Regions from separate parts of the Homo sapiens genome. Here region 1 is linked to region 2. Evidence: fine-mapped expression QTL. Tissue or cell type: testis. Region 2 holds a variant in brackets; the other region holds the start of a gene. All regions are shown on one strand. Distances are between the middles of the regions.

Evidence for each region. PIP is the estimated chance that this variant, and not a neighbour inherited with it, causes the effect.
Region 1: TKTL1 starts here. The variant in region 2 is fine-mapped to the expression of TKTL1 in testis (GTEx, PIP 0.96).

Annotation. Positions count from the first base shown.
Region 1 is chrX:154,293,088-154,298,087 of GRCh38, reverse strand. It overlaps TKTL1 (transketolase like 1), which reads right to left and starts at 2,293. Exons shown (of 13, transcript NM_012253.4): 1 at 2,095-2,293. The coding sequence starts at 2,228. It overlaps TEX28 (testis expressed 28), which reads left to right and starts at 2,964. Exons shown (of 5, transcript NM_001586.3): 1 at 2,964-3,058. RefSeq lists an enhancer at 2,601-3,102.
Region 2 is chrX:154,237,219-154,242,478 of GRCh38, reverse strand. It overlaps the pseudogene TEX28P3. Among named protein-coding and RNA genes, the nearest start is that of OPN1MW3, 18 kb to the left of the region's middle. The variant G/C (reference allele first, on the strand shown) is at 2,738.

The DNA of each region.
Region 1 (5,000 bases), 56 kb before region 2:
GCCTCACAAAACTTAATCAGGACAAGAAAATCTGAATAGACCTACAACTAACTAGTAAGGAGACTAAAGCAGTAATAAAAAAAACGCCCAATAAATAAAAGCCTCATTCGTAATTACTGCCAAACATTTAAAGAAAAATTAACAACAGTCTTCTTCAAACTCCTCAAAAAAAAATTTTTTTTTCTCTACAAGGTCTCGCTTCCTCTGTTCCCCAGGCCGTAGTGGCACAATCTTAGTTCACTGCAAACTCTGTCCCCCGCGTAGCTGGGACTACAGGCACGTGCCACCACGCCCAGCTAATTTTTGTAACATTCTGCACAGGGGATTGCCATCTTGCCCAGGCTGATCTCGAACTTTCTAGGCTCACACGATCCGCCTGCTTTGGCCTCTCAAAGTCCTGGGATTACAGGTTGGAGCCACCACGCCCGACCTCTCCAAAAAATTTAAGGTGGAACACTTTGAAACTCATCCTATGAAGCCAGCATTACACTTTTGATACCAAAAGCAAATACTACAACAAAACTATAGACCAGGCCAGGCGCGGTGGCTCACGCCTGTAATCCCAGCACTTTGGGAGGCCGAGGCGGGCGGATCACGAGGTCAGGAGATCGAGACCATCCTGGCTAACACGGGGAAACCCCGTCTCCACTAAAAAACAGAAAAAATTAGCCAGGCGTGGTGGCGGGCGCCTGCAGTCCCAGCTACTCCGGAGGCTGAGGCAGGAGAATGGCGTGAACCCAGGAGGCGGAGCTTGTAGTGAGCCAAAATCGTGCCACTGCACTCCAGCCTGGGCGACAGTGATACTTCGTCTCAAAACAAAAAAAGAAAAAAAAAACAAAAAAAACCTGTAGACCAATATCCCTTATACTGATGCAAAAACCATCAACCGCATACTAGCAAATTCAACAGCTCATTTTTGTTCCAATTCGTACTCAATTCCCGGTTTCTTTTACTTTATTTTTTTAGAGACAGGGTCTCACTGTTTGCCAAGCTGAATGCGAACTCCTGGGCTCAAGCGATCCTCCCTCCTCAGGCCCCACGTACTGAGACTGCAGGCGTGAGCCACCGCCCTCAGCTGGGTTTAACTTTTTTTTCTTTGAGGCACGGTCTCGCTCTTGCCCAGGCTGGAGTGCGGTGGCGCAATCTCAGTTCACTGTAACCTGAGCCTCTCAGCCTCCCGCGTAGCTGGGACTACAGGCACGTGCCACCACGCCCAGCTAATTTTTGTAACATTTTGTACAGAGGTTCGCCATCTTGCCCAGGCTGATCTCGAACTAGTTTCTAGGCTCACACGATCCGTCTGCCTCGGCCTCCCAAAGTGCTTGGGATTACAGGTGGCAGCCACTACACCCAGCCACTCCAAAAAATTTAAGATGGAACACTTTGAAACATCCTATGAAGCCAGCATTACACTTTGATACCAAAACCAAATACTACAATACAACTAGAGACCAATATCCCTCAAACTGATGCAAAAACCATCAACTGCATACCAGCAAACCCAACAGCACAAGCAAGCCTCCCGAATAGCTGGGAGTGCAGGTGTGCGCCCCCATGCCCGACTCATTTTTTATTTTTATTTTTTGGTAAGAGACGGGGTTTCGCCATGTTGCCCAGGCTGGAATTTTAATTGCTTTTTATCCTCACATCCTGGGTTAGAGTCGCTCATTCACCCTCGGGGATCCAGTACAACTGCTTACCAGGGAAGCCCTGCTCCCCGCTAAAATGAAAACCACAGCTAGCCCAATCTGATCCCAGTGACATTCTCCCGCCACCTCAGTCCAGTCTGGATCCTTTGTCTCCCAACTGGAGATCTTGGCGACCTCCAGAACTTTGGCCGTGGGTAAATTGAGGGGCGGGCTCCAGAACCCGCGGCTGACCAACCAACCGACCGACCCTTGGGTTGGCGGGAATAGTGCCTCGCTGCCATCTAGGGTGCTCGACCGGGCCCCAACAGCCCAAGACAGGGCATTACGACACAGCCCATTGTGCCTCTGAAGGCTCTCCCTTCACCACACGGCCTCATGGCCACCAGGCCTGAAGCCACCGGGCCCGTGGCCCTGCATGACCCAGACTTCAATGAGGAGAACTTACCCGGAGCTCGTGGAGCATGTGGCCCTGATGGAATGGATTCGCAAGCGGCTGGCCATATCTTGCAACACCTGCAAGGTGCCCCTGTCAGGTCTGGCCTCCTCCGGGAACTCAGCCCTCGCCTCAGCATCCGCCATTAGTCCAACCCCTTTGGAGTCTGAAGACCCACTCCTACGTCTCCGGCGTCTGAAGAGCGAATGGCGCCTGCGAGCTGCCCAGTGCGTTTATGTGATGTCGGTGCAGCTCCCTCCGCATGCCTCGTGCCACTCCCTCCACCTGCCGCTCCCTCCGCCGGCCGCTCCCTCCGCAAGCAAGTCAAGGGATCTGGAATGTTTGTGACTTGCATGTGCACAGTTATTGAAAATAGTCCCATTCTCATCTTCTCTCCTGCAATCTCAAAAGGGCTCCCTCCGCGCGGGTGCAGGGTCTTCTTTCTCTGCACAAAAAGTTCCGGCACTAGCTGTGTGGTGCCGCACGTGTCAGGGGGTGGTGCCGCACGTGTCAGGGGGTGGTGCCGCACGTGTCAGGGGGTGGTGCCGCACGTGTCAGGGGGTGGTGCCGCACGTGTCAGGGGGTGGTGCTGCACGTGGGACGTGCAGCTGCAACCGTAAAGGTGGGGGAGGGAGGGAGCTGCTGTGGCGCAATTTTTTGTTTCGTGATAAATGGTCACCCCTCCCCCACAACAGCCCAGGCTATGGCGGGCAGGGTGGGGGTGGGGCAGTGCTCAGGGTTCTGAGACGGTTGGCGCCTGCGCCAGCCTCCTTTCCTTTTTTAAAACATTCTATGAGGCAAGCCCCGTGTGATTGTTGAGGAGGAGTTAGCCCATTGCCAGCCTGTGACGTGACTGACTCGAATGAACCCTGGTAACTAGGGAATGTGCTCGCCCTGTGTCTGAAATGCCCCATGTCCGGTGGTGCCAGCACTAGCCCCCATGTCGGTCTCAGAGAACCTTCTCCCCACCTCTGAGGTGACCTACCGACCCAGAACTCGCATGGCTCCCAACGGCGCCAGCTCCACAGCGCCGTGCCCAAGTCCAGACATTCCGGATCCCAAGTGCTGTCTCTTGGTTCAAAAATGCCGAATTTCTACGTGAGCTCAAGTCAGGCCGCCTGGTCGCGCCACAGGCTGAATGCCCTTGGGTTCCCATGTTCTGCTGGGTTAAAGGGAATGTGTGTTTACATTTTTTTTTTTTTTGAGACGGAGTCTCGCCCTGTCGCCCAAGCTGGAGTGCAGTGGCTCGAACTTAGCTCGTTGCAACCTCTGCCTCCTGGCTTCAAGCGATTCTCCTGCCTCAGCCTCCTGAATAGCTGGGATTACAGGCATCCGCCACCACACCTGGCTAATTTTTTGTATTTTTAGTAGAGACGGGTTTTCACCATGTTGGCCAGGTTGGTCTCGAACTCCTGACCTCAGGTGATCTGCCCACCTCGGCCTCCCAAAGTGTTGGGATTACAGGTGTGAGCCACCATGCCAGGCGGTGGTGGGCACCTGTAATCCCAGCTAATGGGAATCTGAGGCAGGAGAATCACTTGAATCCGGGAAGCGGAGGTTGCAGTGAGCTGAGATGGCGCCACTGTACTCCAGCCTGGGCGACAGAGCAAGACTCCGTCTAAAAAAAAAAAAAAAGTGGCTGGGCACAGTGGCACACGCTCCTGTAATCCCAGCACTTTGGGAGGCCAAGGTGGGTGGATCACCTGAGGTCAGGAGTTCCTGACCAGCCTAACATGGAGACACCCCGTTTCTACTAAATACAAAAAAATTAGCTGGGTGTAGTGGCACATACCTGTACTCCCAGCTACTTGGGAGGCTGAGACAGGAGAATCGCTTGTACCTGGGAGGTCGAGGTTGCGGTGAGCCAAGATCGAGCCATTGCACTCCAGCCTGGGCAACAAGAGCAAAACTCTGTCTCAAGAAAAAAAATTTAACAGGCCACCTAATTGCGATTAAAAAAAAACCAAAACCCTGAATCTGTTTAGATTCCCACTTGCAGGGTATGTGACATCACCTTCTGCCACATTCTCGCCAGCCCTGGACATTGTTAGGCTTTTTAATTTTTGGCGTTCTGGTGGATGAGAAAATAGTATTTAATTGTTGCTTTTCGCTTACTATTCCCGGATCACCTTGCAATTACATGTTTTATTATACGTTTACTGTCTTTTGTTTTTCGTCGTCTGAGATGTCCGTGGCTACCCTTTAATGTCTTTATATTGGGTTATTTGCTCTTAGTTTACTGATTTGCAGTTCTTTATATATTGTGTTGATTAGCCCTTTATCTATCAGATATGTTTCAAGCCTTTTTTTTTCTTGTTTGCTTTTATTTATTTATTTTTTGAGATGGGGTCTCAGTCTGCCACCCTGGCTGGAGGGCAGTGGTGCGATCATGGCAGCCTCGACATCCCCGGGATCAAGCGATCCTCCCGTCTCAGCGTCCTGGGTAGCTGGGACTACAGGTGTGCACCACCACTCCAGGATAATTGTTGTATTAATTTTTTTTTTAATAGAGACGGGGTTTCGCCATGTTGCCCAGGCTGGTCTTGACCTCCTGAGCTCAAGAGATCCACCCACCTTGGCTTCCAAAGTGCTGGGATTACAGGCATGAGCCAGCACACCCAGCCCTTGTTTTTTTTTCTCCCCCTTTCTTTCTTTCTTTTTTGTTTTTGTTTTGATTAATCAAGTCCCATTTTTTTCTCCTCTTGGTTATTTGGATGTTATGTACATATGTAGCTTCTTTTCTAGTGATTACTTTTTTTTTTTTTTTTGAGACAATCTCACTCTTGTCAGTCAGGCTGGAGTGCAGTGGCGCAGTCTCGGCTCACTGCAACCTCCGTCTCCCCGGCTCAAGCAATTCTCCTGCCTCAGCCTCCCCAGTAGCTGGGATTACAGGTGTGTGCCACCATGCCCGGCTAATT
Region 2 (5,260 bases):
TTTTGTGGCCACATCATTCCTGTCCTGAAGGCCAGCATCTTCAAACCTGTGTTCTGTCTTCACATGACATTCTCGTCTGTGTGTGTCTAATGTCCTTCTGCCTCTCTCTCATACATGTGATTGCATTTAGGGCCACCAGGATAATCTAGGATAATCTTTGCATCTCAATACCCTTAAACTCACCACTTCTGGAAAGCCCCCTTTTTTGGTCATAGAAGGTAACATTCACAGTTTCCAAGGATTATGACACAGATATCTTTTGCGGAGGGGCTTTTTGTTTTTTTCTTTTTTAGACAGAGTCTCTCTCTGTCACCCAGGCTGGAGTGCAGTGGCACGATCTTGGCTCACTGCAACCTCCGCCTCCTGGGTTCAAGCAATTCTCCTGCCTCAGCCTCCCAAGTAGCTGGGACTACAAGCGCGTGCCACCACACCCAGCTAATTTTTTTGTATTTTTCATAGAGACGGGGTTTCACCCTGTTGCTCAGGGTGTTCTTGAACTCCTGAGCCCAGGTAATCTGCCCACCACAGCCTCACAAAGTGCTGGGGTTACAGATGTGAGCCACCGTGCCCAGCCTAGGGGGGCAATTTTAGCCTACCGTGCCCCACCTATTTGTAACAACCAGAAATGTCTGTCCAGAGATTGCCAAATGTCCCTTGTTTGGGGAGGGGGGGGCCGGCAAATTGCCCCTGGTTGAGAACCAGTATCCTAGCCCATGAGACTAGTGGGTGTGTGACCCTGCCTCTGACAATTAATGATGCTGAACCCCTTTTCATGTGCTTATCAGCCAATAAGTCTTTGGCTTGTTTTCAACTTGGATTGTCTTTTTATTGTTGAGTTGTCAGAGCTCTTTATATACTCCGGACCAGTCTTTGTCACTCCCCTACTTTTTCCTTTCTCGCAGCACTCACCGCCTAAACTGCTCTCCCTTGTGTAGGTATTCATTTGTGTTGTATTGTTCTCGTCAAAATATCAGCACATTCAGGTCGGCCACTGTGTCTGAGTGACTGCCCAAAGACATGTTGGCACATGATGGCTGTTCTGTGAGTACCTGTTTCATGGATCAGTCTGGATGCTGCTTTTCCTCCCTTCCTGAAGGGACCCAGCTCGCCCTCTGGGCTGCCTCCCTCCTCCATGTATGTCAGAACTCTATCTGCTGTGTCTTGGGAACATCAGGGCAGGGCCAGGAGGGCTGATTCTGGATTTAGGCCTGGCCCAGCCTCCTCTCTGCAAGGTATTTACTGAATGACCTTGGACGAGGTGCTTCAAGTTTGCAATCCTCAGTTTCCACATCTGTAACATGGAGGTAAAAATGATCCCACTATTGTTGGAACTGTTGTGAGAATTAATTAATACTTGTGTGTAAGCCCCAAGTAGATGCTGATGGAACTGAATTTACAATTCCTTTCTGCTTCCTATGTGCAAACTAAGTCCTTGAAAGATCGTAAAGAAAAATGGGGCCAGATGTGGTGGCTTATGGCTGTAATCCCAGTGCTTTGGGAGGTCGAGGCAGGAGGATTGCTTCAGCCCAGGAGTCTGAGACCAGCTTGGGTAACAAAGTGAGACCATATCTCTGCAAAAAATTTTAAAAGTATTAACCGGACTTGGTGGCACATGCCTGTAGTCCCTGCTACATGGGAGGCTGAGACAGGAGGATCGCTTGAGCCCGAGAGTTTTATGTTGCAGTGAACTATGATTGTGCCACTGTGCTCCAGCCTGGGTGATAGAGGACAGAGTGAGAACTTGTCTCAAAAAAAAAACAGAAAGAGAGAGAGAGAGAGAGGAGAGAGAGAGAGAGGAGAGAGAGAGAGAGAGAGAGGGAGAGAGAGAGAGAGAGAGAGAGAGAAAGAAAGAGAAAGAAAGAAAGAAAGAAAGAAAGAAAGTTGTTAATGGCTTTTTTTTTTTTTTGAGGTGGTGTCTTGCTCTGCTGCCCAGGCTGGAGGGAGTGCAGTGGCTTGATCTCAGCTCACTGCAACCTCTGCGTCCCGGATTCAAGTGATTCTCCTGTCTCAGCCTCCTGAGTAGCTGAGATTACAGGCATGCACCACCACGCCCAGCTAATTTTTGCATATTTTAGTAGAGACGGGGTTTCATCATGTTGGCCAGGCTGGTCTCCAACTCCTAATCTCAAATGATCCACCTGCCTTGGCCTCCCAAAGTGCTGTGATTACAGGCGTGAGCCACCACTCCCGGCCAATGACTCTTGATAAATTCATCAATGGAGCACCCTAGGTTGATGAGCTCAGGGATTTGGCCAAGATCTCGACCTGACCCTGCCTTCCTCTTCTTTCCCTGAGTCAATGCCTCCTGGGTTTGTCATTCCTGCTGCCCTCTCCTCTCCACAGCATTACAGTGCTCCACTACCCCTTACTCTGGTTGTCTGTCACTTTCTAGCAGCTTCTCTAGGACCGTCTCCACATACCTGATGGTCTTGTCCATCTCTCATTCATAAATTGCTGGTAGAGGTTCAGAGATAAGAAGCTACTCAAGTCAGAAAGCAGATTGGTGGTTACCAGGGACTGGGGTGATGGGGAATGGGGAGTGACTGCTAAATAGTATTTTTTCGAGGCAGTGATGAAAATGTTTTGGAACAATTTTTTTTTTTTTTTTGAGACGGAGTCTCGTTCTGTCACCCAGGCTGGAGTGCAGTGGCGTGATCTCGGCTCACTGCAAGCTCCGCCTCCCGGGTTCACGCCATTCTCCTGCCTCAGCCTCCCGAGTAGCTGGGACTACAGGCGC[G/C]CACCACCACGCCCGGCTAATTTTTGTATTTTTAGTAGAGACGGGGTTTCACCGTGTTGGCCAGGATGGTCTCGATCTCCTGACCTCGTGATCCGCCCGCCTCGGCCTCCCAAAGTGCTGGGATTACAGGCATGACTGCAGCCGGCCAATGTCTTGGAACTATTAATAGCCATGGTGGTTGCACAACACCACATGTGCTAAATGCCACTGAATTGTTCACCTTAAAATAATTCATTTTATGTTACATGAAATTTACCTCAATAAAAATTGAATAAAAAAGAAGCTACTCAGGTGCCGAGTAGGCAAAACTTTCACTCTTGCTTTGTATTTCTGGCTGTATCCACAAGTGGGCAGTCGTGAAATTTTCTTATAGCCTCCTGTCATATTGAAAACGCCCGGAAGTGAATATGCCAGGTCTCCATGTTTTTCTTTCCCTTCTGGACACGAGGTCCTTGGGGGCATCCAGACCCTAGCTCCTCTGTCCCAAGACTGTTCTGGTATGTTTCGCTTTCAGACGAGGCTTGGAGATAACAGGCTATGGTTCCTAGAGGCTTCAGTGTTGCTCTGTGACCTCTCAGCCCCAGGGATCCAGTCTCGGGCTGACTTTCCTCAAGGTATCTGCTTAGGGCTTTGTTGCAGGCTGGGGTCGTGTTAACTTGAAGGCACAAGAACTTCCATTTTTTCCCCGACTTCTCCTCCATGTCACAGCATCCTGCATCTTGGGATCTCTGAGGAGGTCTGACCTAAGGTCTGATCTGCTCTCTGAACTGGTTCCTCTCATCCCTATTGCGTTGAAGCAAAGCACAGACATTATATCAGTTCATCTGTAAATATTTCAGTGTGAACCTGAAATATGGATCATTTTGTTAACATAGCCTAAATACCATACCAAAAATGTTTTAAAACAAGTCCACAATGTTAAATATGCAGTCACTGTCACCTTATTGCCTCACACATGCCATCATTCCTTTTTATTTCTGAAGGAATTCTTTTTTTTTTTTTTTTTTGTGAGACAGAGCCTCACCCTGTCACCCAGGTTGGAGTGCAATGGTGAGATCTCGGCTCGCTGCAACCTCTGCCTCCCAGGTTCAAGCGATTCCCCTGCCTCAGCCTCCTCAGTAGCTGGGATTACAGGCATGTGCCACCACGCCCGGCTAGTTTTTGTATTTTTAGTAGAGACGGGGTTTCACCATGTTGGCCAGGCCGGTCTTGAACTCCTGACCTCGTGATCCGCCTGCCTCGGCCTCCCAAAGTGCTGGGATTACAGGCGTGAGCCACCACACCCGGCCCTGAAGGATATTTTTTGCTGGACATAGAATTCTAAGTTGGCACTTAATTTTTGGAAATAATAAGCATTTTGAACAAATCATTCCCTTCTGACTTCCATGGTTTCTGTTGAAAAGGCAGCTGCCAGTCTTCTTGTTGCTCCTCGGATCACAGTTTTGTTTTCCTCAGGCTCCTTTTAAGATCTTTTGTTTTTCTTTGTTGTTTAGTGGTTTTGCTATGATGATGTTTGGCGTGATTTTCTTTCTCTCTTCTTTTTTGTGCCGCTGACTCTCCCCTTGGTGTGATTTTCTTTGCATTCATCCTGCTTGGGCTTCGCATTGCTACTTGGGGTTATGGCTTGATGTCTTTTGTCAGTTTTGGACGTTTTCAGCCATTATATTTTCAAATAGTGACTCTGCCCTAGTCTCTCATTTTTCCCCTTCTAAGGCCCCAGTTACATGTATGTTCAACCTTTCCACTGTATCCCTACATCCTCTGGGTTCCTGTGTGAGCCGTCCTGGCGAATTTCCTCCTGCTTTCGCTTCTGTTTTGTTGGCTCTTCCCCCAGCTCCCCAGGGCCCCTTGCTTTGGCACATTTGCTCAGAGTGAGCTCATCCATCCTGGCCACATGCACCGATTGCACCTGGGCTATTGACCCCTCCTACAGCTGTTTCTCCGTCTCAGACTTTTCCTCCAAGTTGTGGGCCATGATTAGGCTCTAGCTCAATTTGCCAAAAGCAAATTCTCAGAAATGACCAAGAATATACTCTTTCCGGCTGGGCCCAATGGCTCACACCTGTAATCCCAGCACTTTGGGAGGCCGAGGCAGGCGGGTCACCTGAGGTCAGGAGTTGGAGACCAGCCTGGCCAACATGGTGAAACCCTGTCTCTACTAAAAATACAAAAAATTAGCCCGGCATGATGGCGCATACCTGTAGTCCCAGCTACTCAGGAGGCCGAGGCAGGAAAATCACTTGAACCCGGGAGGCGGAGGTTGCAGCAAGCCAAGATCGTGCCACTGCACTCCAGCCTGGGCAAACAGAAGGAGATCCGTCTCAAAAAAAAAAAACAACAACACTATTTTGAAAAAAACAATAAAGTTTAGAACACTTTGTGTTGGAGAGGGTGGTCTTAACACCTTCGGTCTGTCTTGAGGGTGTCTGGGTTGACTGGTCATCGTTTTGTGTTCATAAGAGCATTCTCCAGAGTTGTCCATTTGCTTTTGTGACTGTAGGAGGTGGAGAGAGGGGGGTCCTT